Regions from separate parts of the Homo sapiens genome. Here region 1 is linked to region 2. The links come from fine-mapping of genetic effects on gene expression. A gene starts in region 2. The other region holds a variant in brackets. All regions are shown on one strand. Distances are from middle to middle. Region 1 holds the start of GARS1 (glycyl-tRNA synthetase 1). Region 2 holds the start of GARS1-DT (GARS1 divergent transcript).

What was found. PIP is the estimated chance that this variant, and not a neighbour inherited with it, causes the effect.
Region 1: its variant is fine-mapped to the expression of GARS1-DT in whole blood (TOPMed, PIP 0.96).

What each region holds. Positions count from the first base shown.
Region 1 is chr7:30,587,155-30,604,308 of GRCh38, reverse strand. It overlaps GARS1 (glycyl-tRNA synthetase 1), which reads right to left and starts at 9,431. Exons shown (of 17, transcript NM_002047.4): 1 at 9,166-9,431; 2 at 5,412-5,513; 3 at 4,260-4,362; 4 at 3,109-3,250; 5 at 1,187-1,275; 6 at 737-813. The coding sequence starts at 9,387. RefSeq lists a silencer at 8,140-8,239 and enhancers at 8,135-8,748, 8,749-9,362, 9,383-9,732, 9,363-9,976. The variant A/G (reference allele first, on the strand shown) is at 10,783.
Region 2 is chr7:30,571,181-30,585,816 of GRCh38, reverse strand. It overlaps GARS1-DT (GARS1 divergent transcript), which reads left to right and starts at 8,038. Exons shown (of 7, transcript NR_038889.1): 1 at 8,038-8,168; 2 at 9,107-9,253.

The DNA of each region.
Region 1 (17,154 bases), 17 kb before region 2:
GTACTTTGCCTAAACGGAATAGCCAACAGATGAGGTGAGACACCAGCAACATATATACATGAGCACATGCATCTTCCCAGGGAGACGTGCAGTTTTGATCACATTCTTAGGGTGGTCTGTGACCCAACAAAAGGATAAGAACTACTTCTAATATAGAAAGTATTCCTGCAATTGGTAAAAGGTCAGAATAAATTATCTCTGTGGTCTCTTTTTTGTCTTCTCTAAAATTTGTCAGCTTAAATATTATACAAATTATAAAACTTTAGGCCTATAGGCAAACTGAGAAAAGCAAGGACAGAAAAGTCAGGACCTGCTCATGAGGTTCTAAGAATAATAGCATGAAATCAGGGTCCAAGCAGAGGCAGATCAAGTAGCCAGTGAGAAAGTGCTCATCAAGTTATCTGCCCCGAAGTCTCCACACCAGTGCTGAACACTACCCATCATCAGTCACTCCTGTGGTTTTAGCTATTAAATCCAGAAAAGTAGTTTCCAAGGTCAGACAAATTGAATGCCTATTAACACGGACTTGTTAGTTTGGGCTGAAATAAAGGGTTAGTCACAAAAGAGAGAAGAAAATAAAAATGCAAAAAAAGAGACGCTATACAGGACAGAATTAACCTCTGCTTCATTACAATGTGGCCAGGGTCAGCATAATGGGAAATGCAACAGTCATTAAACACTGAAAGAAGGACAGCGACCACCTAGGTTACTCTGATAACATCTCTAGAGTACTCACCTGGGCCAAAACACTTTCCATTTCTGATTTCTTTTCGACAGAACACTTCTTATCAGACATCAATTTCTGTAAATGAGCTGTAAGAACAGTGTTGACATATATCAATCAATGGGAAAAAGGACAATGCACTTTTCAGTTTCAATGCTAGACAATTAAAAAGTAAATCCAAGCATAAAGTTCTTAATTTACATGAATCCCACAGTTGATTTTACAACAGCAGTCATGGTATTGTCTTGATTCATTTGCTAATTAGAAAAATTATCTGTATATAACTAATTATCTACATATAACTTTTTTAAAAAATAAAGGACTTGATCTATATACTTAAGATCTGTGCACTTTGCTCTTTGAATGTTATGCCTCAATAAAAAATTTAATGAAAGACATCTGAGAGAAAGTTTAAACCTTTTATTTTGATCAATCCTACCTGAAGGAGATGAAGAACCTCACCTTTTAATAGATGGTCAGCACGAAAACATTCTCCATTTTTTACGTCTTTCACCATGAAGTCAGCAAATTTGTCTACATGGCCAGAGGTCCTAAATTAACAAATGCCAACCCAATTTGTCATTCTCATACAAATTACACATAGATATTACCTTATAAGATAATTCCCCATCAATATTTATATCCATCTCAAAGATGGAAGCTCCCATATCTATAGTAATGATGTATCCATGACAGTAATGGATGCCAGAGAAAATTCTTCCTCAAATCTATTTCTCACCCTCTCCCACATTCTTCCTTCCCATAAGAAAGAAGACATTAACTAGACAATAAAAAGACAATTCTTTTCTACAAGTTGTCATAAAGTCTGTACTATTCTTCAGGATCAATTAATCCATGCCTATGCCATTATTATTAGTGATCTAAGCAAAGGCCAAAATCACTGGGAATTTGACTAGTTAAGAATTCATGGCAGCTCAGTATAGACATTGAACCTTAAGGGAAGTGTTTTCTGCCACTGAAACCTGTACTGACATTGGTATTATCTCTACAAAGTTCCTATTGGTGGAACAAGTAGCTAAAATGATAGGTAGTCCTGATCTTATAGAGCCATCATTCAGAATTCCTCCTCTTCATTGGCTGAAATTATTAAGAGAACCTAACGGATGCCAATAGTAAAAATTAGCTCTCCACCAGTCAACCTTAAATGAATAATGACGAGTTACAAAATGGCAAGAATTCCTCTTTCAGGCCGGGCGCAGTGGCTCACGCCTGTAATCCCAGCACTTTGGGAGGCCGAGGCAGGCGGATCACGAGGTCAGGAGATCGAGACCATGGTGAAACCCCGTCTCTACTAAAAATACAAAAAAATTAGCCAGGCACGGTGGCAGGTGCCTGTAGTCCCAGCTGCTCTGGAGGCTGAGGCAAGAGAATGGCGTGAACCCGAGAGGCGGAGCTTGCAGTGAGCAGAGATCGCCCCACTGCACTCCAGCCTGGGGGACAGAGCGAGACTCCATCTCAAAAAATAAATAAATAAATAAAAGAATTCCTTTCAGTTTCACATTCTGAAATTCTGCCCTACTTTGGGAGGCCGAGGCGGGCGGATCACGAGGTCAGGAGATCGAGACCACCCTGGCTAACATGGTGAAACCCCGTCTGTACTAAAAATACAAAAAAAAAATTAGCCAGACGTGGTGGTGGGTGCCTGTAGTCCCAGCTACTTGGGAGGCTGAGGCAGGAGAATGGCGTGAACCTGGGAGGCAGAGCTTGCAGTGAGCCGAGATCAAGCCACTGCATTCCAGCTTGGGCGACAGAGCAAGACTCCATCTCACACACACAAAAAAAGGAAATTCTGCCCTACTTTCAATAACGTTGGTAGGAATAATCTAAGTTTCTGCATTGAAACTTTAAAACAAATAGTATTTAACTGAAAATCTCTACAAGTATACCTTTGCTCAGAACTTGTATTAAGGAAATAATCAAGGATATACCCAAAAATCCATCTATCAAGATATTCGGTGCAGTCAAAAATGAGAAACACTTTAATGCTTTCAATATGGCACAAACTAACATATTATGGCACTTCCATAAAACAGAATACTATGCTATCATTAAAAATGCTTTAGATGAATAGTTAATGATATGAGTATATGTTCATCAATATTACATGAAAATAAGCAGTGTACTGCTAACACTGAAATACATAGGGACGTACAGAAAAAACAGGAAGGACAAACACAATCATCTTAACATAGCTATCTGTGAGCAGAAGGTATACATTTCTTTGCTTTTCCATATTTTTCAGATTTTCTACATGAAATGAGTAGTTCTTTATAATCAGGAAGTTATTTAGATAAGTATATTAAATAATTTAATAAGTTATTTTATTTAAAGTAGGATACCCCCACTCCAAAGTAAGATCTCACTTTAAAACTGGCTCAGGGGTGAGCATGGTGCAATCGATCTCCAGGATCTGTTCCTCTTGGATAAAGTGCTGCCTCCAGGTCTGAATAATATTGTTCTTCAAAGCACAGCCAACTGGCCCAAAGTCATACAGACCACTAACACCTATAGAATATGAGAGGAAAACACATACTTTACCTTGTTACTCTGAACAAATGAAGGCAAGGAGACATGAGAAACTGATACCTATACTCCCTAAAAGTGTATTCAAGTCAACAATGCAAATCCCTCAATACTGAAGAACCTTACTTTCAGCTAGCTGATGGAAGTAAAATAAAAAAGCTCTTACGCCATTTACTAATTCTATATTTGTAATTTCAAGTAGGACTAGCCCAAAATCTACAACAAAAGTTCCCCCTTAGAGAACAGAATGAAAAAGCAGATTACAGTTTTCTGCCGTAAAAATTACAAAATAATTTCTCACCACATCTGATAACAATGATCTATAATTTTAGCATCCAATTCTCTAATTTTTTCCTGGGTATTTGAGGCACTATTTAACCTCAAAAGGGTAAACATTTACAGATCCACTTAGCCAAACTCAAGTCAACTTTCAGTGGCAAAGTACTATATGTCTAATGTTGTTGTAATAATCCGTTGACTATGAAAAATATAGTTTTACATTTCATCAGTGAATTGTATTTGCCTATATACCTTCATATGGCATTCACAGTGATTTATCTACATCCCTGGGAAGAATGTTTTCTCCTGGCAGATGACCATAAAGAATAATCTAAGGACTGTTTTATCACTGCCCCTGTGTGAAGGGGCATAGTATAGTTAGCCAGTACTACAATGGCCCTCTGTTACTCTTCAGTCTCCATTGCATTTTAAAAAGAGTACATGAGTACACAGACACATCAAATACATACATGGGCCTCCAACAATTCCCTACATCCTAATCAAAAAAAGTGCTGTCCAGGAATAAATGCAGTGGAGAAAAATAACAGGTATCACACCAAATGGTGACTCCAAGCAAACAAAAGCAAAACATCCATCCTCTGCTTTGTGGCCTGATACAAGTGGATACCAACAGGCAAGCCATGTTCTTGATTTAAGTATAATATTAGAGCCACTAACAACACAATAGTTCTTTTTGTCATTAATCCCTTACCTCCATAAATAGCAAAAGCTTGATCATAGAAAAACCTCCTCTTCAGGGTATCTTCCATTTTTGCTCGGTCTACAATATCATCTTTGGGCTGTAACGCCAGCTCCTGTTAGAGATTAAATAAAAAGTGAGTGAGTGGAGGGGTGGGTGGGAATCTGAACTTATATATCTGAATTTAGTTTATTCCTCACCAGAATTAAATATAAAATTTATCAAACAGACAAGATTTTGATAGGTTAAAAACAATAGAAGCCATAGGTCTTTTTTTCCCTTTGAGTAATATAAAAGATATCTTTACTTAATCATTTAGGAAAATATATGATCATTTCCAAGATTACAAGACTAAGCTTGACCAGGTGCGGTGGCTCACACCTGTAATCCCAGTACTTTGGGAGGCCGAAGTGGGTGGATCACCTGAGGTCAGGAGTTCAAGCCCAGCCTGGCCAACATGGCAAAACACTGTCTCTACTAAAAATACAAAAATTAGCTGGGCTTGGTGGTGGGCACCTGTAATCCCAGCTACTTGGGAGGCTGAGGCAGGAGAATCACTTGAACCCGGGAGGCAGAGGTTGCAGTGAGCTGAGATCGCACCATTGCACTCCAGCCTGGGCAACAGGGCGAGACTCCATCTCAAAAAAAAAACAAGACTAAGTTTACTTTGATGTAGATACTGATAAGCAATATAAAGCAATATTTGAATTGTCAGTGGATTGCTATAGCAAAATGGTTACTTTAAAACCCCAAAACAACTTAAGTTTGGTGATGGGAGATCTATTGTTTGAAAGGTCTGGGAGCAGGTATCAAATAAACAGACCTTTTCCTTAAAACAAACAAACAAACAAAAATCATTATTTTCAGGCATAAGAGAAGTCGTAAAGAAGAGCACAATCCTTTCCATGGAAATTCATATAGCGTATTGAGTCCAGCATTTGCAGGGTCAGGAAGGCTTTATTAAAAAGTTGACATTTTGAGTTGCATTTTGAAAGGATGAGGAGTCTACCAGGTAGAGGGAAAGGAGAAGGCGGCATTATGGATAAACAGATAAACCAAATGATACTTGTTCAGAAACTTTTCTAGGTCTCTCCCATCCAAAGAAATTAAAGATGAACAATCCTATACCTACTTATGTTCCTATTTTAGCATCCCAGGACTCACCTTTGCTTCCAGAACCCTCTTGCGGGCTTTGAGCTCAGCCACTGCTTTGTCTACGTCTACTTGGGGTGCTTTATCTTCTTTGAGTTTTCGCACAAGATCTCCCTAGCCAAGAAAGAGAATTTATATTCAGGATTGGTTTCAGAAGTTAAGAAATGTTAGGAATGTGTTTTTAAGCGTGCCTTTTAAAAAGTCTATGTAAGAATGATGCAATTCAGGCCAAGCGTGGTGGCTCACGCCTGTAATACCAGCACTTTGAAAGGCCCTCCTCACCATCTGAGATCAGGAGTTTCAGACCATCCTGGCCAACATGGTGATACACCATCGCTACTGAAAATACAAAAATTAGCCGGCCGTGGTGGTGGGCACCTGTAATCCCAGCCACTTGGGAGGCTGAGGCAGGAGAATCACTTGAACCCGGAAGGCGGAGGTTGCACTGAGCTAAGATCATGCTACTACACTCCAGCCTGGGTGACAAAGTGAGACTCCGTCTCAAAATGAAAAAAAAAAAAAAAAAAAAAAAGAATGATGCAATTCAAATGTTTATTATGTGAGTGATCATTATGAATCAAGGTCTCTGCCCTCTTCATTTAATAATCTAGAAGAACACACGGGCAAGTTAACAAATAACTGCTCACATGGTGAATTTTTTCCTTTGGGTATAGAGGGGTGAAAAAGGAGGAGACAAAAGCATTGATTAAAAAGTAGGAAAGAGCAAGATTTGTACTGAGAACACAGAAGAACCAATAAATTGACCACCTTCTTAAATCTCTCTCCTCTCGCTTACAAAAAAAAATAAAAACATTATTCAGTTTTCCTCCCACTTCTCTGACCATTCTTCTCAGTCACTGCTGGCTCATCTTCCTTTGCCTTTCTCTTTACAGTTGGAATTTTTTCCTTGCTAATATTTCTGAATTATTTTATTAACTTCCAACAACTTATACTAATTCCATATTTATAGTAATATGGTGGAATAGGTCATCTGAGTAAACAAACAAAATATTACCTATATAGGATGAAAAACTTTCAGCTGAGTAATTAAAGTTGTTAAATTGATATAGCCCTTGGGCACCCAACAGAGTTTCTAATTTCAGTGATCCATTTCCATACAATATGTGCTTCATTTTCACACTGTGTGATTGTTTTTGGTAGTCTCTTGTTCTTTGCTCATGTTTTTGAGTACTTCTTTTATTTTAAAAATTATCTTAAGCATTTTAAAAATATGTGATTATTCTAATACTTTTGGAGGATCTAATTCTATTATCATTTCCCCTAAGTCTCACTCAAGGTGGCTTGTTTCCTCATGGGTTTTTAAATTTTGAGTTTGGCACTTACTATTTTGGTAACCTTAATCTGTGAAAAATCCTAAAAGACCAATGTGGAAAGTCTGCTTCTTTTGTAATATGACGTTCTGGGTAAAGTATATGAAGAAAGACATATGTAGGTGGAAAAGGAAAAATAATTTTAAAAGCCGTTTCGGATAATTGTGGATATTCTTTGATACTACCTCAAAACTCTGACAAGTGGTAGCTTCTTCAAGGTTATTTCTAACTCAGAAACTATAGCAATGAATTTTTTGTACTGTCAGAATAAATCTATTAATGTATCTTAAGCTTTGAATGGCTCTTTCACCAATACCTGATTTCATAACATCATGCATTGGTCACCTGGAAAACACTGGTTCACTGAGTTACGCAGATTATCCAAATACTATCAAAAAAAAATCCACGTTTGTTAATATCACCACTCATCTCATCACAGATATCTTTAAGGACTGTGAAGCTGCCAAGCTCACAGCAAAAGATACGAGTCTTCCCAAATTCTAAAATTTCCCCAAAGTTTGAATTTTATTATTGGCCACAAATACTAACCGTTGTTTTCTTAAAGTGACAAACTCACTTCATTCATTTTCCAGATTAACAAATTTCTATGAAACATGTGCTACTAACAAGACCAGTCATTAAGTAAAAATCCCACTCCGGAAAGGTTTTCAATTGCACTTCACAATGGAGTTATCCAAAATGGATAGGGGTGACAGTGTGTCTCATTTCCCCATATACAAAAAATGGGTAAAATTAGATCATCTTTAAATTATTTTTCAGCTGACATAGGACTCAGTAATTCACACAATTAACTAACTGATATATGTGTGTTCTTGGAAAATTAGAAAAAAATATCCAAACTAACTTAAATCAACTAACTCGTATATTCGGAAAATATCTTAAAGTACAAAACAATAATCAAGACAACATAAACAATACACAAGACAGTAGTTAGTAGCATCGGAAAGCTGCCGCGATCAAAGTTTACTTTAGTTAACTAGATCCTGTCTTAACTACCGATGGATGATTTTCACTGCAGTTCCAGGCTAACGTGGCAGAGGGAGGGGTTTGGGTGTGGTGGTTTTTTTTTTTCTCCAAATTAGTTGTATGCTTCCTTCTAAAGGGAAGGATATTTTTTAAAATGGCAAGTTAAGAAAAGACAAAGGAACCACACCTAATTTTATTTGTGGAGTGGAAGGTGGGTGGAGGGAGACAGAATATGCAATCGGTGTTCTGACACCAATCATGAAGAAAAAAGTTAAGCCCGTGGTGATATTTCAAAATGAAAGGCTATTTATTAAAATCGGTCAGGCTCAAACCAGCGAAGAGGACAGATGGCAAAGTGGCTGAATTTGCGGCAGCTATGCCCCAATGAATTATTTCCGAGATAGGGTTCCACCCTCTGTAGCTAAGGCAAATTATTGCATCAGGCGCCCATGCAGGAGAAACCCGTTTGGTGTTTACTACTAAGTCATGATCTCCGGGGTCCTACTGCAAGCTCTGGCTCTCCCTAATTGCATATGGGAATCATCTGAAATAATCTTTTCCTTGATATCTCTAAATTCTAAACTCTATGGCAGTGCCCTAGGAAAAGGAGGTCTATATTAAATCACCAAGTCCTTCAGCCCATGAAACCTTCCCTCACCTTCGGGAAAATCAAATGTCAAAATATTCCATACTAAGGATGGCTGACTTCACTCCGCAACACTTAGTTTCCCAGGTTTACGATCTGAGGGCTCACTGGTTCCAAACGGCCTTTTCAGAAGCCAGAAAAGATGACAAGAGCAAAGGATGATGAGTTCACAGCATTAATAGAAAAGTTCGACACCTCCCCACATCCACATTTCAATTCTATTTTCTCAGCCAATCATTCCGCTAAACTAAGCACTGAATGAAGGAAGATGTTAAGGGGGAAACACTATCAAAGCATCCTAAAGATTAAAGGGCCTGGCCGTAAGACGAAAGAACCGGCAGTTTTTCGGCTCATCATTGACCACTGAAAGAATTAGGAGGCTTTCCACCCAGGGTGCACAAAGAGTACAGCAGAGCCTGGAAAACTGAAGTTAAGGTTATTCAGTTAGGAGGCGAGGACAACCAAAGGGTCACAGATCCCAGCCCCACTGGAAATAGAGGAGACGCGGGCTGTGACAGAATGGGGAAGGGAGAACGGAGCCGGAGAGGGACGCAGGAAGTCGGAGGGGTTCCAGGGAGTCATCCAAAAAGAGAGGAGGACGGAGGTCCGCGGGAGAGGAGGTGGCTGACGCACGGGGGACTTGGGACCAAAGTGGGGGAGGCGAAGAAGACGCCAGAGGATGAAGGGAAAGAAAGGGGTAACCGAAGAGGAGGACAGTTCCCCGGGGAGGAGGGAAGGATGACCAGAAGAAGGCCCTGGGAGGAGAGCCGGAGGCTTAGCGGAGAGCGCAAAACACCGGTACCTGCTGGCGCACTGCTAGCCTCAGAGGTGCCAGCACCTCCTCAGCCCCCGCGCCGTCCATGCTGCTCCGGGAGGCGGCGGCGGGCAAGGAGATCGGGGGGCAGGAGGCCGCGCTGAGGGACCGGCGGAGCAGGAGCGAGGGTCGGGCTAAGAGCCGGGGCGGCAGCAGCAGCAGCAGAGCGGCGCGAGCACCTCTAAGCAGCACTGGACGCGGAGAGGGCATGAGCCTGCGGCCCTGGGCTGTCCAGAGAGGGTGGCGACGGAAGCGGCGCGCGCCGCCCGGCTCGGAGCATGATGAAATCGCCGCGTAAACGACGCGGCGCGCGTGCTGCCGCACATTCACCACCGCGTGACGCGGCGCCGGGTCGCCGCCGCAGATTCGACACAAAACCCGGAAGGACCCCGCCGAAGGTTTTCTCCGGTTCGGGAGAGAGGTAGGTAGGGTTGCGAGCGAACAGATTTGCACAGAAGTGCGTCAAGCCACCCCAGCAGGGTGGATGTTCAGGGACACAGCTCTGAGCGAGACCTGCAGGCCGAGACACACGAGAACCTTCAAAGCATAGGTTTTTATACGAGTGACACCCCGGCCGACCTACTTGAACGGACACTTCTGTTTCTGTTCTTTCGCGCCCTGCGCCTTAAAAGGGTCGCAAAACATCAAATCAGATAGGGATCTTAGACTTCTGTTGCTCAAGTGCAGATGTTCCCCAGATAAGGAAATAGGCCCAGAGAGGTTAATGATTTGCCCAGAGTCACACATTCTTGGTCCGCCGATGTCAAGACAAAAGCTGGCGAACGGGGGAGGAGGAGTGAGGGGATAGAGTCACCCCAGGCTTTCTGGAGAAGGTAAATTCCAATCTGCCCTTGCGGGGCGAGCAGGATTTGAACCGGCAGAGATGAGGAAAGGCAAGAGGTGCCTGATAAGTCTTTCTGCTTGGCATAGCCTCAGTCTATCTGCCTCCTGTGGTTAGGCCCCAGCTGACCAACCACCCAGAGATGGCTTCCCCCCGCCCCACACACCCAGTTCCTCCTGCCCAAAGGGTGGAGGGCCTAGAAAAGCTGGGTTCCCCCTCCAGGAAAGGAAGAGAAAAATGATGTGTTGGTTATAAAAACAGCATTGCGCACACCTGCAAAAATGGCTAAAATGAAAATGATGGAAAATGCCAAGTGACCCTCTGAGACTCCCCTACACTGCTCAGGGGAGTGTTAACTGGTGCAGCCAGCCACTTGGGAGCTCTTCGGCAGTATGCACGTACGTCTCCCTGTGACCCACAATCCCACCCCAGGAGTGTGCAGGAGTAGACGGGCTCAGTATAATGAAGTCTCCTTTCCTAATGGTGTGAAAGTCCATGTTATTTCTCTTCCCGTTCCAGTGTGCAGTTCTGGAGAAGTACTTACAATTCAACATGAGCAGGGTGGGTTGCTTAAGAACCTTCTGCAATATTGAACAATTATATTTTTAAACACTTTTATTTCAAGATTTGATATTAATTATAATTTATTTGGCTTTTATTTTACTAGGCAATTTTGAATTTATTTTAATATCTTTAAATGTGAAAAATCATTTTAAGTTTTACTTTTATTTTTATTTAGATTTTTATTAAAATGTTGAAATTCT[A/G]TATCCTTTGAATAAAACTATTTTATTTCTAAAAAATTCCTTAGATCAATAATGTCTCATCCATTTTCATGTTAGGACAGTCCTGAAAGGACTCCAAATCCGTTCTTCCCTCCTCCCCGACCAATTCATCCTCCCCACTGCTGCTTCAGTCATTCTTTCTTTCTTTTTTCTTTTTCTTTTTTTTTCCAGACGGAGTCTCGCTCTTTCACCCAGGCTGGAGTGCAGTGGCGTGATCTTGGCTCACTGCAACCTCCGCCTCCCGGGTTCAGGCGATTCTCCTGCCTCAGCCTCCTGAGTAGCTGGGATTACAGGCGTGCGCCACCACACCCAGCTAATTTTTTTATTTTTAGTAGAGACGAGGTTTCACCATGTTGGTCATGCTGGTCTCGAACTCCTGACCTCGTGATCCGCCCGCCTCAGCCTTCCAAAGTGCTGGGATTACAGGTGTGAGCCACTGCACTCGGCCCAGTCATTATTTCTGAAAGGCAAATCTGACTGTGTCCCTTCTCTTCTCAGGACACTTCAGTAGGCTCTTCATGGCCCTTGGAAGAATTTCCCAAACAGTTTTCTTTTGAAAACTGTGTCTGCACAATAATGATAATAGTTTATGTTTGTTGAGCACTCACTATGTACCAGTTAGTTCTAATTTATCTCATGGAATTTATTCACCAATTTAGTGAGATAGGTTCTATAGTTATTCAGAATTTTCACATGTGGGATTCAAGGGACTGAGATATCAAACAGCTTGTCCATGGTCACACAACTAAGTGAGTGTTGGGCCAGAATGTGAGCTGGGGGCAGAGGCAGATTTTCTACATAGCTAATGAAGCTTCAAGTGAGTTTAGCCCCTTTCTCTGTTGGGCTCTTTAAGTGCCCTGCAAGAGGCCCTAGTATTGTGTATGTATGATCATATATTTTTCTTGCTTTATTAAAGTTCATTTCTTTGAGGGAAATAAATTTTGCATACATTAAAATGAACAAAAATGTATAGTTCAATGGGTTTCGACAAAGCAATATCCTTTTGTAACCCCAACACCAAGCAAGATAAAGAACATTTTCCCCTGACTCCACAAAGTTCCCTTGCATGTCATCCCGGTCATCCCACCCTCCACAACCAGGCGATCACTATTCTCATTTATTTTCCTCTTAGATCTAGACTGTTGTATAAATGAAATAATGTAATATGTACTCTGTGTCTGATGTCTTTAATTGACCATAATGTGTGAGAGATTAATCCATATTGTTTCACATATCAGAAACTTGCCCTTTTTTGCTCTGAAGTATCCCATTGTGTGAATATACTATAATTTATTAATTTATTCACTAGTTGATAGACATTTGGGTTGTTTCATATTGTAGACCATTATGAATAATGCTGCTGTGAACATTCTCATACATCTTTTTTTGTAGCTATATGTTTTCATTTCTCTTGGGTAAATATCTAGGTGCGGAATTACTGAGTCAAACAATAGATGCATATTTAATTTTATTAGATTGTCACAAGTTTTTCCAATGTGGTCGTATTATTTTATGTTCTTAAGAGCAATATATAAGAGTTCTAGTTGCTCCACATCCTTGTTAACATTTGATGTTGCCGGCCTTCCAGATTTTAGCTATTCTAATAGTTGTATCTCATTGTGACTTGTATGCATTTTCCTGGTGATTAATAGAGTTGATTGTGTTTTCATGTGCTTAGTGGTCATTTGTACCTCTTCTTTTGTGAAACATCCACATTTTTTGTCTTTGCTTTTTAATATTGAATTATAGGAGATTTAGATATGCTGGATACAGTCCTTTGCTAGGTACATGTTTCATAAATATTTTCTTCCAGTCTGTGGCTTGCCTGTTTGTTAATGATGGTTTTGATAAGCAGAAATTTTTAATTTTGATGAAGTCTAATTTATCAATTTGTTTTTTTTCTGGGTTCTAAAAAATCTTTGCCTACTCTCAGATATTCACCCATATTTTTGTCCAAAATTTTAGTAGTTTTATGTTTAGGTCTATGATGCATCTTGAATTAACTTTTGTGTATAGTTTTAGGTAAGAGTCAAAGTTCATTCTTCCCATATAGATATCCAGTTGCTACAGCATCATTTGTTGGAAAAAAGTAGGGCTTACAAAAAATTACTGCCATTGATCAGCTCTAGTGCCTTTGTCAAAAATAAGTTCACCATATAAGGTGGACCTATATCTGGGGTCTCTATTCTGTTCTAATGATCCATTTATCTATCAATCTTTATGCTAGTATCACACTTCCTTGATGACTATTGCTTGAGGATAATTCCTGAAGTCAAATAATGTATATTGTCTACCCTTTCTTCTTTTTCAAAATTGTTTTTCTATTCCAGGTTCTTTCTATTTCTATATAAATTTTAGAATTGACTTATCAACTTTGTAAAAATACCTGCTGGAATTGTGAACCTGTAGTTTAATTTGGGGAGAATTCATAGTTTAAAGCACTGAATGCATTTTGATAAATATATTCCTAAGTATTTTATTCTTTGAGTCTTGTGAATGTTATTTTATTTTCCATTGATTTGCTGTTAATGTAGAGAAATATAATTGATTTTGTATAGTGACATTGAGACTTTCACTTATTAGTGCTATTATTTGTTTTGTAGGGGCGGGGGTTGTAGATTCCTTAGGATTTTCTTTTTTTTTTGAGACGGAGTCTCGCTCTGTCGCCCAGGCCGGACTGCGGACTGCAGTGGCGCAATCTCGGCTCACTGCAAGCTCCGCTTCCCGGGTTCACGCCATTCTCCTGCCTCAGCCTCCCGAGTAGCTGGGACTACAGGCGCCCGCCACCGCGCCCGGCTAATTTTTTGTATTTTTAGTAGAGACGGGGTTTCACCTTGTTAGCCAGGATGGTCTCGATCTCCTGACCTCATGATCCACCCGCCTCGGCCTCCCAAAGTGCTGGGATTACAGGCGTGAGCCACCGCGCCCGGCCGATTCCTTAGGATTTTCTGTATTAATATGCATATACTTTGTAAATAGAATCAGTTTTACTTCTTTCTTTCCAATATTTATGCCTTTTTCTTTTACTTGTGTGGTTGCGTAGTCTAGGTCATCTTGCACAATATTGAATAGAAGCAGTGAATGAACATCTTGCCTTGTTCCTGATATTAGAGGGAAAAGTGTTCAATGTTTCTCCATTTAGTGTAATGCTAACAAATTCAACTTGGTTTTGTCTTTCTTATATTCTGCTGGATTTTATTTACTAACATCTTGATAAAGATTTTTGCCTGTATGTTCATGAAAAATGAACATACAGGCAATCAGTGTATTGTTTTCTTTTCTTGTATCTTTGCCAGGTTTTGGCCTGGCTTTATAAAATCAGAGTTTCTTTCTTCTCTATTTTCTGAAATTTCAATATTTGTAAGATTGTTATCATTTCTTCCATAACCATTTGATAGAATTCACCAGTGAATTCTGGAGTTTTCTTTGTGGAAAAGTTTTTTTGCAGTTGCAGAGCCATCCATGCTTTCTATTTCATCTTTTGCCACTTTTGGTAAGTTTTGTTTTTCAGGGAATCTGGCCATTTCATATAAGTTATCAGATTTATTGTTTTAAAGTTGTTCATAATATTCCAGTAGTATTATTTGAATATATGTATAAGATCTGGAATGAAATCTCCTCTTTCATTCCTGATACCAGTAATTAGTTTTTTTCTCTCCCTCTCTTTTCTTGATTAGTCTTGCTAAAAGCTTACCAATTTTATCAATTTTGTTAAACATAAAAGTTTTGGGTTTGTTAATGTTCTCTATTATTTTGTCTATTTTCTATTCCATTGATTTCCACTTTTATCTTTATAATGTTTTCCTTTTTACTTACTCTGGGTTTAATTTGCTCTTCTTTTTTAGCTTCTCAATATGAAAATTTATAAGCCTTTCTTCTAAGACAAACATTTGAAATTATAGATTTCCTTCTACTTACTGCTTTAGTTAAATCCACAAATTTTTGATACATTGTTTTCATTTTCATTTAGTTCAAAGTACTTTCTAATTTTCTTTATGATTTCTTCTTTGACTTACTCCTTGTCGAGAAAAGTGTTATTTAATTTCCAAATATTTAGGGCTTTTTAACATATCCTATTATTTTAATTGTTGCTTTCTAGTTTAATTCCTGTGTGATCTGAGAAAGCCTTTTGAAATTTATTGACTTGTTTATGACTCAACATATGGTATATCTTGGCGAACACTCCATGTGTACTTAAAAATTGTGTATTATCCAGTTATCGTATGTAGTGTTTTATACATGTCAATTAGACCAAGGTGGTTGATAGTGTTGTTCAGATCTTCTGTATTACTTCAACCCAAATAACAGACAGAGGGAGATTCTCCAGAGATATTGAGTTTATTTGAGATGTGCAGGGGACTTGCAAATCCAGGATATAGGGCTCTTGGGACCATAGGCATAACTGAAGAGGCTGAGGCAAGGGGAAGCTTTTAAAGGCAACAGGGAGAAGGACACATAATTTGCCTTGAAACAGAGAATATTGGTTACAGGGGCTTATCACAGGAGTTGAAGCCAGTTCATTAGTGAAGACAGTGTGTCAGGCAGGTGTTGTTGTACATCTGGCTAGCTATCATTGTGATTCATGTAGCAGTTTGGGAAGTCTTTGACAAAAGTTCTTCTTACAGGCATGGGTGGGTAAGAGCTCTTCAGAGAGTCTTTGTAATCGTGTTCTTATCATAGATATGTGTGCAACACCCCCCCACACACCGCCCTGCTTCTCAGCCTCCCAGCCTTATTTATTTATTTTTGTTAGAGTTTGACATAAGTAATTCCACTTAGATTCTGACAACTTTCATGATCATTACTAATTTTTTATCTAGTTCTATCAGTAACTAAGAGAAGAAGTTAAAGTATCTAACCACGACTGTGGATTTGTCTATTTCTCCCTTTAGTTCTTTCACGTTTGCTTTATGTATTTTGAATTTGTTATGAGGCATGTACACATTTATAATTGTTATATCTTACTGGCAAATGGCATTTTTTTTATTATGAAATATTCTTCTTCATCTCAAAATATACTTTTTATCTTATAATATATTTAGCCTAACATTAATATAGCCACTCCAACTTTTTTATGATTAGTGCCAATAGTCAGTGAGGACCTGTGGCCTCCTGCCAACAGCCATGGGGTTGAGCTATGCAGGAGGTAGATTTTTCAGCCCCAGTCCAGCCTTCAGATGACTGCAGCCCCAGATGACATCTCAAATCTAACCTTATGAAAGACCCTGATCCAGAACTTGCCAGCTAAACTTCTTCCATATTTTTGACTTTCAAAAACATTGAGACAATAAATATTTGTTGTTTTTTAAGCTGCTAGTTTTAGAGTAATTTGTTACATAACAGTAGATAACTAATACAGGAATCTTCCCTGAACTGAGTATACAATTCCTTTTCTTGAGAAGTGAAGTCCCTTCAAGGTGCCTCTTGGGGCTTTGACAGTGAGTGTCACAGCAGTGAGGTAGTATCCTCCCTGAATCTTCTGTGCCATATAAGAGCCCTGGTACCTGTCATATAGTCATTTAATCAACATTTACCCCTTGAGAAGCTGAGAGTTCCAAAGTGATATGGTTTGGCTGTGTCCTCACCCAAATCTCATCTTGAATTCCCATATGTTGTGGAAGGGACCCAGTGGGAGGTAATTGAATCATGGGGCCAGGTCTTTCCTGTGTTGTTCTCATGATAGTGAATAAGTCTCACGAGATATGATGGTTATTATAAGGGGGAGTTTTCCTGCACAAGCTCTCTTTGCCTGCTGCCATCCATGTAAGATGTGACTTGCTCCTCCTTGCCTTCCGCCATAATTGTGAGGCTTCCCCAGCCACGTGGAACTGTAAGTCCAATTAAACCTCTTTCTTTTGTAAATTGCCCACTCCTGGGTATGTCTTTATTAGCAGCATGAAAACAGACTCATACACAAGGCTTGATTTTTTTAGTCTTATTTCCTTAGGCTCACGCAGCCCTAGCAGGAGCCAACACAGGTAGGTGCACTGAAGATCAAGCCTCAGAATGCAGGATGAGTCAGCCCAGCCTGTGGACCAGATGATCTGGCCTCATTAATCCTCTCTCATTGACTCTCCTTTCTGGCCTGTGACCCATTAATAATGTTTTGCCCCAACTTCCAGCCTCCCTTAGCAAAGATTTGTTTCAGCCTCTGTCGTCCAAAAACGAGGAGGTGAGGTCCCTCGAATTCTGTGGGACAGTGTCAATAGCTGAAGCAGTGCAATTTGTTGTAAGATTTAATTCTCTTTTGATTTTGCTGGTACAGAAGCATCAGGAGGGAAGAGGTTTGTTTCTCTTCCCTCCCTCCTTGATTCCCAGGGCATAGGTAAGGGAAAACTTTATCTTCTAATCTGT
Region 2 (14,636 bases):
AGGGGAAGGAAGTAAAGAGAGAGAATTGATAGGGATAAAGAAGAGGCATCAAGAGACTTGGGGTATCTGCTACTGAAGACATCAGCTCTCTATGACAAAACAGCACAGCATGTTTGGAGTAAGAGAAAGCTGAAGTCTCAACAAACAAATAGATTCTTAATGTTCTATACCACCGGACAAACTGCAGCCCTTTTATACATATGGAGTACTTTCTGGGCCAGTCCTGTGGCCCCTTTCAAATGTATGGTGTTGAAACGTAGTAAGTTTATGTTTTTAAGGTCTGCCCCTCCCTTCTTGCATTATATCATAAACTCTTCTCTTTTTTTTTTTTTTTGAGACGGAGTCCCGCTCTGTCACGCAGGCTGCCAGGCTGGCGTACAGTGGCGCAATCTCAGCTCGCTGCAACCTCCACCTCCTGGGTTCAAGCGATTTTCTTGCCTCTGCCTCCTGAGTAGCTGGGATTACTGGCACACACCACCATGCACAGGTAATTTTTTTATATTTTTTAATAGAGACAGGGTGTTGGCCAGGCTGGTCTTGAAATCCTGACTTCAGTGATCTGCCCGTCTTGGCTTCCCGAAGTGCTGTGATTACAGCCATGAGCCACCGTGCCCGGCCAACTCTTCTCAGTTCTAAGTGTCCTAACACCCTTCATCTCCTGCTGACTGCAAGGCAGTTCTCAGGGAGGAGCCTGGATTGTGTCCATGTATAAAGAAAGACTCTGCTGCTGATGTGCAAAGGAATGTGGATGTGATAGTTTCCAGCCTGAAAGTCCCCCTCTTTTCATCTCCGCAGTATAGTTCTTAGAAACAACAAGCCTTGCTTTTACAGTGAGTCCATATCTAAAACTTTATCTGAACCCAAAATACCTGAGATAGGTCTCAGTCAATTTAGAGAGTTAATTTTGCTAAGATTAAGCATGTATCCAAGACAGCTTCAGGAGGTCTTGACAACGTGACAACATGTGTCCAAGGTGGTTGGGGCACAACTTGGTTTTATACATTTTAGGGAGATATGAGACATCAATCAATATATGTAAGATGTACATCAGTTTCGTCTGGAAAGATGGGACAACATGAAGCAGGGAGGGGGCTCCCTGGTGACAGGTACATTTGCATTCTTTTGAGTTTCTAATTAGCCTTTCACTGATACATACCTATGACCTGGGTTTCCAGGTCATAGGTACGACTGCATTCTTTTGAGTTTCTAATTAACCTTTCACTGAATACATAACTTACAGGAATAGTCACTTATGCCTTAGTCTGGCTTAGTGAAACAATAGGGAAAAGGAAGCAATTAGATATGCATTTATCTCACATGAGCAAAAGGATGACTTTGAGTTCTGTCTGTCTTTTGTCTACAGGGAATTTTCTTGTGGGCAAATTGTGAGGGAGGTATGTAGCTTTTTTATCTTTGTTGCTATCTTGTTTAGGAGTACAATGGGACGCAGGTTTGCCCCACAGTTCCCAGCTTGGCTTTTCCCTTTGGCTTAGTAATTTTGGAGTCCTGAGATTTATTTTCCTCTCACATCTCCCCGTTTTTCTTTTTAAAATCTTTCAGAGACAGCATTTTAGAAGAAAACAAGTCTCTGGTCTCAGGCTTTGTCTGATCTCTCATGGCTAGGATAGTTTATTCCTAGATGGATAAGTACCACGTTATTTGGAAAGCTCATTTTTAGTAGGTTATGAAGTCTCATGTCCTTTGAAGAGAAAATAGGGGGAGGAAGGAAGAAAAACAACAACAAACAAACAAAATGAAGAAGAATCCTGGAAAATCAATATAGGCCGTATTACTCTGAAGTCCATGTCAGTAGGCAGGTATGAAAGTGGTTTATGTGTGTAAATAGGTTGCTATTATTTTCTTCTGAAGTTTACATTGTCTAGCTTCAGTCTGTAGGGCTTTAAGAAAGACTGCTTAATTTTAAGTGATTTCAAATCAGGAAAAATGGGGTGGGGGGAAGTAAACGAAAGAAGAAAAAAATTGAAAACATTATTTTGGAGACTTGTAGCCAGGAAAAATTTTTGAATTCAATCTAAATTGTAGAAAATAAAAAAAACTGAAAAACATTAGGCAAGACTAGAATCTAATAACAGGTGTACTATAGTTTATGTTGAAATATAATTTTCCTCTCTCCAGTCTCATTTTCACTAAAGACAAGTCATAGGACAAATTCATTTGCAAAATAAGTTGTAGTCTTATTATACTTGGCTGGAGTATTTGCATAAAGTCAGAAGAATAATTATTTGCTATATAGGCTCCTCTTTTTTTTTAATTGGCTTTGCTAGAACTTTATTCCACTAAGAATCTCAGATTTAACTTTAATGCATTAAGCCTGGCCTGTGCCTGCAAATCCTTGCGTTAGTTGAGTGAATTCCTCACTTCAAGGTCCCAAGAAAACTTGGGGCTCCTGGGCCTGTCAGAAAGTGACATTCTTTACTCACTACAGGTCACCCTGTTCCGGGACTGTGCAGACAAGGTATGAGACCAGGTTTCTCAAGGAGTTTTTATTGGCTCTAAAGTCAACTTTCATTCTTTAAAGGAGTCTGTTTGTATCTGAAAGCATCCTATTCCAGTCAAAACCTTGGTAAAATAACCAGTGTCTCCAATTGTGCCCTGTTACAAAGGAACATTCTTGAGAAAGAATCTTTCTCAGAGGAAAGATTCTTATTGCATGTATGCAAATAACTATATTGCCATAAGTTAAGAATACTCACAACTAGTTTCTAAATTTTGGAGAAATCAGGTAGAGAGAAATATGCTCCAAATTTTGTTTACAGAAATATACTTTACTCCATTGTTAAAAGCTATAAATAGCTCAAAAGAAAAGTTTTCTTGGCTCTGAAAAACAAAGGGTCAGCAATGTTTTAGGCAAAAAGTCATAAAAGGACTATTTCAGTTTTCTATTAGTTCAGTCCATGCAGTTAACTTCTTTTCTGCTTGATATTCATGAACATTTCAGCTCTCCACTGGAGTCTTGGAAGTTTTTCCTCTATTCTAGTGTCACAGTCTCCAAAGTTATTAGAAGCCTGCATTCAAGAGCACCTGTCAGAGTCCCACAGCTGATTATAAAACCACCTTTTGAATAGGATAAAAGTAAAACAACTGTGGATAACAAAAGTCTTAGAACAGTCATAAAGACACAATTGACAAAGATATTTGGTTACTTCTGTGGCATACAACAATTTTACATAATTATAATTACCACAATTACATAATAATAATAATTACCACTGATAACATATGCCAAGTCATATCAGAATCACAGGAATTTCATACAATTCTCAAACATATACCAATAACATATGTGCATAAATATAATCCAAAGAAGATTAAACATTGTTTTATACTTGACAATACTTCCTGTATGATTTTATTATATCAAATAAACCAAATATGTCTCTTTTGGACTTCAGGGGACTAATATCAAAAAATTAATGAGGACCAAAGTTAGAATTTGATTGTCGAAGGTTTGTCAAACATAAAAAGTTTAAAACACTTAATATCACAAAGTAGGATCACAGGTCATTGTAAAGTCATTCATTTAGACAAAGCGATAACTCAAAGATTTTTTTTAAGGCGAAAACCTTTATTCTTTGAGAGGAGACTTCATTTCCCAAACAATAAGCCTTAATAAAGACAGGATGAGGCCAATTAAACTTGTTCTCCAAAATTTTATAAACAGCCTATAATATTAAATAGTTTAATCATCTTGACCATAAGATGTAATTTCCATAAGCCTTTTTTATAACCTTTTATTAAGGAGTGGGTTAACGCTCCAAGAAAACCTTGTTAATCTGACTCAGAGGCCCATATGCTAGTCTTGCATCAGTGCCTTCGACATTAATGGTTAATTTATAGAGAAACTAAACTTATTTTATCTCTCAAAATTGACCCTTACAATGTCACACACCCATGTCTTCCATGATAGTTCCTGGGTCTTGAGGAGTTGAATAGTTTTAATTTCTGGCCCTGTGTCTCATGAACACAGTTTATTTTGATTGGTATCTTCTACAGGGTCTGAAGATAAAGCTTTAACTGCTGTCAGTGTTTAAGATTTAGCCGGACTTGGCATCCTTTTTAGACCCAGGAGTCTAAACCCTGTAACTTGATGGCACAAGGACTTTAAAAGCACATACAGAAAGTTACACAGATGTAATAACCTTAATGAAAAATAGTTTTTCTTTTAATCTCAGTTTTTTCTAAGCAGACCAAAACTTAGTAATAATGACATAGGAATTATTTCAATATAAAGTGTAAAATCTGTTTGTTAGGCCAGTTACCCAAAAGCAAAAGCAAAGAGCTTCTGCACTGCGACTGCTGTTCCCTGTGGAGAATCCATTTAGATTAACTGCAAGTCAAAACTAATTAAAGAGATACTTGAATTAGTTATGAGAGGTGAAGCCAGCTGGGCTTCTGGGTCGGGTGGGGACTTGGAGAACTTTTCTGTCTAGCTAAAGGATTGTAAACACACCAATCAGCGCTCTGTGTCTACCTAAAGGTTTGTAAATGCACCAATCAGCACTCTGTAAAAACGCACCAATCAGCGCTCTGTGTCTAGCTAAAAGTTTGTAAGCACAACAATCAGCACTCGTAAAAACACACCAATCAGTGCTCTGCATCTAGCTAAAGGTTTGTAAACACACCAATCAGCACTCTGTAAAAACGCACCAATCAGCGCTCTGTGTCTAGCTAAAAGTTTGTAAGCACAACAATCAGCACTAGTAAAAACACACCAATCAGTGCTCTGCGTCTAGCTAAAGGTTTGTAAACAGACCAATCAGCACTCTGTAAAAACGCACCAATCAGCGCTCTGTGTCTAGCTAAAGGTTTGTAAATGCACCAATCAGCACTCTAAAAATGGACCAATCAGCACTCTGTAAAGTGGACCAATCAGCGCTCTGTAGAATGGACCGATCAGCAGGGCATGGGCAGGGCCAAATAAGGGAGTAAAAGCTCGCCACCCAAACCAGCAGCTGCAACTGGCTGAGGTCCTCTTCCACACTGTGGAAGCTTTGTTCTTTTGCTCTTCACAATAAATCTTGCTGCTGCTCACGCTTTGGGTCTGCACTACCTTTATGAGCTGTAACACTCATTGCAAAGGTCTGCGGCTTCACTCCTGAAGTCAGCAAGACCACGAACCCACCAGAAGTAAGAAACTCTGGACACATCTGAACATCTGAAGGAACAAACTCCAGACATACCATCTTTAAGAATTGTAACACTCACCACGAGGGTCTGCGGCTTCATTCTTGAAGTCAGTGAGACCAAGAACCCATAGGCAGGAACCAATTCTGGACACAGTTAGACATAGGAAGAGTGTTTCCTGGGTCGTAAGTGAAAATTTTTTATTTCATAGAACAATTTAAAGCCAAAAGCACAGAATATTATGTTGGAAGGAAACATTTCCTTTAGACCTTTAAGAGAAAACATTTTTAGCATCAGACCACAACAGAACCCGAAAAAAAAGAAGCTTACAGAAGCTGAAAATGAGTTGAAGAATAGAGTGATTATTTCAGGCACTTTAAAAGGGGAGAAAAAGCTGAAAACAGTGAGATGCAATACAAGTTGAAATTTACTTAAAAAATTATAATGTCTTTTATCAATTTTAATTTTATTAAGAATGAAGCAATACTTCAAGAAAATTCCATTGTTCTAACCAATTTTTTTTTTTTTTTTTTGTGTGTGACAGAGTCTCACTCTGTCACCCAAGCTGGAGTGCAGTGGTACAATCTCAGCTCACTGCAAACTCCGCCTCCTGGGTTCAAGCAACTCTCTGCCTCAGCCTCCCGAGTAGCTGGGATTACAGGCGTCTGCCACCACGCCTGGCTAATTTTTGTATTTTTAGTAGAGACGGGGTTTCACCATCTTGGCCAGGCTGGTCTTGAACCTGTGACCATGTGAGCCACCTGCCTTGGCCTCCCAAAGTGCTAAGATTCTTCAGTATATAAATGGTTTTTAGAAAATACCAAAACCCAATTCCTAGAAAGACCATTAAAAATAATTTCCCTTTAATTATAGACAACTTGATTATCTAAAAGCTTTTTTTTCCATAAATCCGCTTATGATTTACTCCAGACCATTCATGACATGCTTGTGAGGTAGAAGAATAGGGTCTGGAGGCAGGGAATCTAAGGCCAATTTGCCCTGACTTCCTAGAACTGAATCACAAGGAAAACCCCACCTCTCCACACCCAAGTAACAAAAGTATCAGAGGCTACTGTCTTTGCACTGCCTCACAGATAAAAATGGAAAGTACCTCTGATTGGTCCCCTCCCACAACCAATCAGACTTGTCGTGGGCCACTCCTTCACTTACATAGGGTATAACCAAGTAACCAATGGAAAACTTCTAGAGGGTATTTAAACTCCAGGAAATTCTGTAACCGGCCTCTTGAGCTCCTTGCTGGAGCCCAATCCCAGTCTGTGGAGTGTACTTTCATTTAAATAAATCTGTGCGTTCTTTGCTTCATTCTTTCATTGCTTGGTTTGTGCATTTTGTCCAGTTCCTTGTTCAAAATGCCAAGAACCTGGATGACTCATAGTCAAGACCCTCCACCAGTAACATATATTGGCGAGCCAGCCAGGAGGTAAGCCCAAAGTTTGGGATTTATTTTTCTTCTCTTGATTTCCCTTTTCCTCTCTGCTCCTTACAGGGGAACTCTTTTCTCTGTCTCTTTTTCCCTTTCCAGCTTGGAACCCTCGGTGGACAGTGCCTAAGCACAGAGGCAACCACAGGTTTCTAACAGGGCCACTCTCTGGTGAAACTGAAAGGTTTCTGTGTGAAAGTGCCTGACCACCACTGCCCAATTCAGGTGAGGGACCTGAGTCCTTTTCCTTTTTTCAGTCTTTCAGTGGCCGTTTCCTAGTAGCTTCTTGGTAATTGAGGGAAACTGGCCGGGACCACTCTCTACTGTTACCTGAAGGCCAAGGAGTGAACCTGGGATAGCTCTCCTGCCCAGAAGGCGGAAGGACTCTTTTGTATCTTTTTGAGTTATAGTCCCTGATCCCTACCTGTGATGCAATTGGCAGCAGAAGCTCGTCCAGGGTGAACTCACACACATTTCAGGCGACTTAAACCCTCTTTCTTAAGCTAAATTCTCCCATAAAGTTGGCCTGTAAGGACAAAAGATAATATCTCTTAGATATTTTGACCTCCCTTCTCCTACTGAATCTATTGACTGGCTGAGGACCTTTGGGACCCACAAGCTTTAGAACACATTCTACATCTTGGACCTCCACTTAAGGGAGCTTGGTGGTCATTGCTTTGGCATCAGTTTGCTTGCCCTGAACCCCGTAGAAATTCTATATATCTTTTATATACCCAATATAAACCCAATCTTTTATATAACCTCTGCACCATTTCTTCATGGGGAATATCCCACTAGCCTTGGTACCGTTAACTCTGCAGTGTTCGGGAACCTCCTTAGTCTTGCAAGGAATGCAGGAAGATATGGCCTATCTAAATTGGTAGGAAGCTAGAAGCTGAGACCTTCATCCAGGGACAAGAGAAAAGCTCATATTAGGCCATTGCCTCTGGAGGGAAAACATACAAAGCAACACTGGTGCCCACCTAAGGTCAGAGATGTCTGACACTTTTAGACTGGACCTCAAAGGGGGATGCCTAGGGGATCCAACTCCAGACCTCAGCCTCTCCAAAGGGGATGCCCTAGGCAAAGGTTCTCAGGTCTAGTACTAAGGCCTCCTTAGAATTGTCTCTCTCTTGCAGACCACTACAGGAAACACTCCATTTATTCCACCTGACTTCCCACTTGGCTGCATCCTCAACCATTGAAATGAATTTGACCCTGATAATCTAAGGAGGAAACATTTGATATTCTTTTGCAATAATACTTGGCCCCAGTATTGTTTGGAATCTGGAGTTTGCTGTTGAATGGGAAAGCAGGATGACGTTGCATGTATCCAGGCTTTGGTGCTGCTGTCCTAAGAAGGGTCAGGCCTAGTCAGCATATGGTGCTCTCCTTTGGTGCTATTTGGCTCCAGTGTCTTTGGAGTCTGAGGAGGTTTGGCCTTTAAAAATCAAACTGCCACCGGAACTGCTTTAAAAATGTTTGGTTCACAGCCTTCACTGGATTACCTATTGGAGCAAACAAAGTGTAACCATGTAAAACCTGTGAGCTTGTATTGATATCTCATGGCTAGAGTTCCAAGGTAAAAGCTATTGGATCTTCGTTTGTGTGTGTGTATACATGTCTAGATGTGTTTATTTGTATGTACACTTATTGTTATATGTTGTGTCAACCAAATCAGCTTATAAATAAAAAAGCACTCATAAATTAAATAAATAAGTCCAAGCAATTTTCAAGTTCATGTGACTTAAGTAAATCTTCATTAAATAGCTGGCTTTAAAATTATTGGTAAAATGAAAATAGAAATATCTTCAGAATTGTCAGCATACATTTTTGTCTGGGTTTTATATTTGTCTTTGCTAGAAATGTTGAAGTGTCAGCATTTGGCATAGAAGATTATAAAGCTATTAACCCAGCCAAAACAAAATGGCCTTAGTTTATGTGGCTTCTTTGACAAATGAGACTAATTTAATATTGTTAGCTAAATCTTCTGGGTTATTGGCAAAAACACCTATGTATTTAACTGTGAGGTTCTTATTTAGGTGAACACATAATGTTCATTGGCTATTAAAAATGGTTAACAAATAAATAACTAACTTTAAATGATGGTGTCTAATATCTCAGTTTTCAGAAGTAATCTAGATAAACTGTTAAAAATGAAAGACTTAAGTACATGTAAATGGGATGAATGATTAGGTAAATTTTGTGTAATTTAAAATCTTAAAAGTATTTTTGATGCCCATTGGATATCTCAGTCATTTCCAATTAAGAAAGGGTTATGATAGGGAGGAATATGTTTCCAAAAATTGTGGAATTATTCTCATCTATAAAATGCTAATATCTGATAGTTTAGGATTTTTTGCTTCCTAAGGTTTCACTAAAATTTAAGGTTACTAAGATGATATGGTTTGGCTTTGCATCCCCACCCAAATCTCTTCTTATAACTCCCATAATTACCGTGTGTTGTGGGGAGGGATCCAGTGGGTGAGAGATGATTGAATTATGCTGTTCTCATGATAGCGAATGGGTCTCATGAGATCTGATGGTTTTGAAAATGGGAGTTGCCCTGCACAAGCTCTCCTTTTGCCTGCTGCCATCCACATAAGATGTGATTTGCTCTTCCTTGCCTTCCACCATGATTGTGAGGCCTTCCCAGCATGTGGAAATGTAAGTCCAATAAACCTCTTTCTTTTGTAAATTGCCCAGTCTTAAGTATGTCTTTATCAGCAGCATGAAAACAGACTAATACATAAGGATATGAATTATAGTTAATATATAATTCTGTATACAAAATATGCCAAAAAATGTGTTATTGGTGAGAAAGAATTATTTTGTGTAGTTTGGAGGTTATCTGAAAGTTAATTCAAATTATGGACTTTAAAAAAAAGAGTTATTTATGAAACAAGGTAGTAAGGAACCAGTAAGTAGGGGAGAGATGTGAAGAAAGTTATATATATGAAGATATGTTTTTGTGAGGGAAGATTGTAGAGATGGTGGCTTTGTAGGAGAAAAGATCTTGTACGATAAATTCTTGTCCTAACGTAAAATGACTGGTTGTTTAAAAAGAAAGATGTTTAGGAAAACTCAGAAAGTCCAAGCATTTTGTAGATGGTCTGGGTAAGTTATGAAAAGAATTCATGTAAGAAAAGGATAATGTACCTTTGGTAAAAAGCATGGGAATGTGGATTTCTTGCCTAAGTTTAGAGGGTGAAAGGATGGTTTTAAGTGAGATAGGAATAATCTAAAAGGTTTGAACAAGTTGTGGAAGGCTTATGAAAAATTAATTGTAAAAGAGATTCTGTGTGTGAACATATTGGCTAAAGTTAAAGGGGAAGACTGGCAATTAGACTTCACCCATATGCCAGTGTGCAAAGTATACAAGTTTTTGGTAGTAGTAATAGATACTTTTACTGGCTGGGTTGAAGCTTGCTCTATGAGAACAAAGAAGGCTCATGAAGTTGCTAAGCTTCTTTTAAAGGAAATAAATCCCCTAGTTTGGGTTACCCCAAAGCCTCTAAAGTGATAAAGACCCATCTTTTAGAACTCAAGGGGCTGCTAAGGCTCTCAGAATCAAAAATTATTTACATGGGAAAGTAGAAAGGGCTAATCAAGCTCTTAAAATGGGTGTTAGCTAAGCTATGTTAGAAAACATCAGAAATTTGGGTCAGCTTATTGCCTGTAGCCCTCTTAAGAACCCTTAATTCTCCTAGAGCAAAAATTAATATGAGCTCATATGAAATGTTATACAGAAGGCCATTTTTTTTTGAGATGGAGTTTTGCTCTTGTCACCCAGGCTGGAGTGCAATGGCACAGTCTTGGCTCACTGCAACCTCTGCCTCCCTGGTTCAAGCAATTCTCCTGCCTCAGCCTCCTGAGTAGCTGGGATTACAGGCATGTGCCACCATGCCTGACTAGTTTTTGTATTTTTAGTAGAGACAGGGTTTCATCATGTTGGCCAGGCTGGTCTTGACCTCCTGACCTCAGGTGATTCGCCTGCCTCAACCTCCCAAAATGCTGGGATTACAGGCATGAACCACCGCTCCTGGCTGGCCATTTTTAAATAATGATCTAATTACTGATCCAGAAACAGCCAGTTTAGTAACATGCGTAATTAACCTGGGACAATTTCAGCAGGCTTTACAAAAGTTTAGAACTCAAAGACTCCCCACACCAGGAACTAACCAGCAACCCAAAATCAGGCCAGGAGATAAAGTACTTGTTAAAACATGGAAGGAGGGATCACCTGCTGAACAATTACAACCCAAATGGAAGGGACTATTTTCAGTGGTACTGGCCATGCCTTCTCCAGTCAAAGTACTGGGAATAGTTAGTTGGATATGTCTTTCCAGGGTCCAGCCTGCAATAACTGAAGCCCCCAGACCTGGAACCTGAAGATCCCATCAGCCACTAAACCTGTGAACCTGTAGAAGACCTGAAGTACCTGTTTAAAAGGCAGCCAAAAGATAAGTAAATTCCTATCAACTTTCCTTGGTGTCCTTCTTGTATATTTACTGTAAGCTGGATATAATAGTAGCCATTTTTATATTTTTACAATTTAATTGCTTTCTTCCAAATGGATTGAATCACTTCTTTTAAAGTGTTTTAATTAATTTTTATCTATAGAACAAAATAACAAATAAGTATTTTTTTTTTATACCATAATGGTCACCCACAGCCTGTGTATACTAAGACCATGCATACTGATAATCAGCTTTATTTTACAAAAGAGTTTCGCTTTACCCCTCTGGTAATTAATGGATTCTGGGTATTTATTAAAAACTTTAACACAAAGACTGTTAAATACCACCAGTCCAGCTTTGGCAAGGCACTGTTGGCTTTGTTTATCTCCATCATCATCCAAACAGACTACCAATCCTGATCCCAGCCCAATCTTGGGCCCTTGAAAAAATAACTTAACATCCTAACTACAAGGGAGAAACTCCTTTCAAATTAATGAACCTGGCTGACTTATATAGCCTTAAAATTATGGAAATGACAAGGGTTACAATGTCAGAATGAGCAGTAAACCTTCCCCAGTCCTATCAGAGCAAACTTTCTGGGGTTGCATCCCCTCAGAAACCCATTTGGGGCCCAATCTCAATGCACATATCAGTGCGCAAAGCACTAAAATTCCAGGCAACACTTTGTATTGAGAGAAGCCAAAATTTTGGTCCCGCCCTGGGACATCTAAAGTCACCAATGTAACTACACCATACAGATTAAACCCTCACATGATCATGTAAGCTATGCAGTTACCCAAGCTGCATCATTTAGAAAACCTGTACAGTTTTTATGGAAACCATCCCTAGTCAAGGACACTTTAAATATATAGTCTAAATACCGTTAAGGTAGGCCCACTAGCTGTGTTCACATTTTCCCTTGGCCACCTTACCAGGGACTTTAATAACTTGGGAAAGTGAAAACAACAAGCTAACCCACATGTTCACCATAGAAAACAATTTTGTCTTGAAAAACAAGGACTCTTTTTCCCGTGTGGGACCAGTTCCTACTTATGTTTTACCAGCCAATTGGACTGGAACCTATACAGTTGTTTATTTAGCCCCCGAAATTAATATAGCTCCCAACAACCAATCCTTCATTATACTTTTAACTGCAACCACCAGACACAAATGAGCCATCCAACTGATACCACTTTCGGTAGAGCTAGGAATAACAGCAGGAGTAGGAATGAGAGTTAGCAGCCTTGCAGTTTCCCTATCCTATTACCAATGCTTGTCCAAGGATTTTATGGAAAGCTTAGGTGACATTGCCCAAAAGTATCATCACCTTACAAAATCAGATAGAGTCTTTGGCAGTGGTGGCTTTGTAAAATAGAAGGGGACTGGATCTCCTAAATGCTGAAGAAGGTGGCTTATGTCTTTTTCCTAGAGGAAGAATGCTGTTTTTATGTCAACCAAACAGGATTAGTAAGGGATGCCACCCAAAAACTAGCCGATTGGTACCATAAGATATGACAACAGCTGTCTGAGTCATGGGGCGCCTAGTCAAAATGCTAATTTGGGGCTCACATCTCCTTCCTCTGGCCAGTCCACTATTAATTATTATACTTGCCTTGGCTTTTGGATCATGTTTGTTAAATCTTTTAACCAGATTTATTTCTTCTTGCCTAGAGACCATTATGATAATGCAGCAGGGCCACCAGTCAGTTTCAGATAATGATGTCAACCCCGGCCACCAAGAAGTAACCTTGTCTCCACTAGACAGAGCAGGGTGAGAGTTCTGTAATCCCCAGTAGGTAGGGACTGTGCCCCAAGTCAGCATGAAGTAGTTATGGAAGAAAGACCATGGGTCCCTCTGCCTCCCAGAAAGATTTATGGGGATCACATCTCTCAGGGGAAAATGAGGCAGGAGAATAGGGTCTGGAGACAGGGAACCTAAAGCTGATTTGTGCTGAGTTTCTAGGATTGAATGAAAAGGAAAACCCCACCTCTCCACACCCAAGTAACAAAAGGATCAGAGGCTACTCCCTTTGCACTGCATTGCAGATAAAAAATGGAAAGTACCTCAGATTGGTCCCCTCCCACAACCAATCAGACTGGCCATGGGCTACTCCTTCGTTTACATAGGGTGTAACCAAGTAACCAATGGGAAACCTCTAGCGGGTATGTAAACCCCAGAAAATTCTGTAACCAGTGCTCTTGAGCTGCTTGCTGGAGCCTACTCCCACTTTGTGAAGTGTACTTTCATTTCAATAAATTTGTGCTTTCATTGCTTCATTCCTTCGTTGCTTTGTGTGTTTTGTCCAATTCTTTGTTCAAAACACCAAGAACCTGGATGACTCATAGTCAAGATCCTCTACCAGTAACACTTGAACTTTCTGGTTTGTCCTGAACATCCCTCTTTCTTAAACAACCAGTCGTTTTATTCTAGGCCAAAATTTTACCATACAAGAATATTTCTCATATACAATTATCTTCCTTCTAACTTTTCTTGCCAGAAATACCTTTTATAACTTTCTTTACATTGCTTTTATTTAACGATTACTTTTACCTTGTTTCATAAGTTTTAAATAGCCTTGAATTAGATAAAAAATTATTTTCCTTTAAATAAGAACACATTTCTTTTTTTAGAAAAATATTTTTCTGTAATTTTTTTTTTTTCTTGAGACAGAGTCTTGCTCTGTCACCCAGGCTGGAGTGCAGTGGCACAATCTTGGCTCACTGCAAGTTCTGCCTCCCGGGTTCACGCCATCCTCCTGCCTCAGCCTCCAGGGTAGCTGGGACTAGAGGTGCACACCACCACGCCTGGCTAATTTTTTGTATTTTTAGTAGAGACGGGGTTTCACTGTGTTAGCCAGGATGATCTCGATCTCCTGACTATGATCTGTCTGCCTCAGCCTCCCAAAGTGCTGGGATTACAGGTGTGAGCCACTGCACCTGGCCTAATATTTTAAATTGGAAATGACCCAGATGTTTAATGAGTACCTATTATTTAACTTAATATAATTTTAGATTCTAAATTATATAACAAGTTTAATCACAAGCATTTATTCCATTACATTTACCTAATTAATTTTTTTAATAGTTTACTCAGATTACTTTTGAAAACTGAGAGTTATCATTGAAAGTTATTTCCCAGTTAATCATTTTTATAGACTGCGAATTTCAGGTTTTCCTAAGTAAGAAACTTAAGGTTAGATAAATGGTTTCTTTTTTTTTTTTTTTGCCAATAACTTAGGATTTAGCTGTTTTCATTAACTAAACAATATTAAATGCCTTATTTATGAAATTTTACATAGAGATAATTTTCCTTTGGGCTGCATTCATTGTTTTATAACCCTCATGCCAAATTTTGGCATCTAGCAGAGATAAATATGAAACCACTGTTCCAATAAATTTAAACAATAGTGTATGTTGACAATTCTGAAGCCATTCTAATTCTAATTTTATTTCATGACTACTTTCAAAACCAGCTTATTTATTAAAGATATACTTAAGTCACATGAACTTGAAAAGACATTTGGCTTAAAATCTCTATTTTCTCTGATACAGTATTTGATTTAAAGCCCCTTTTTTTCTTTAAGCCAATT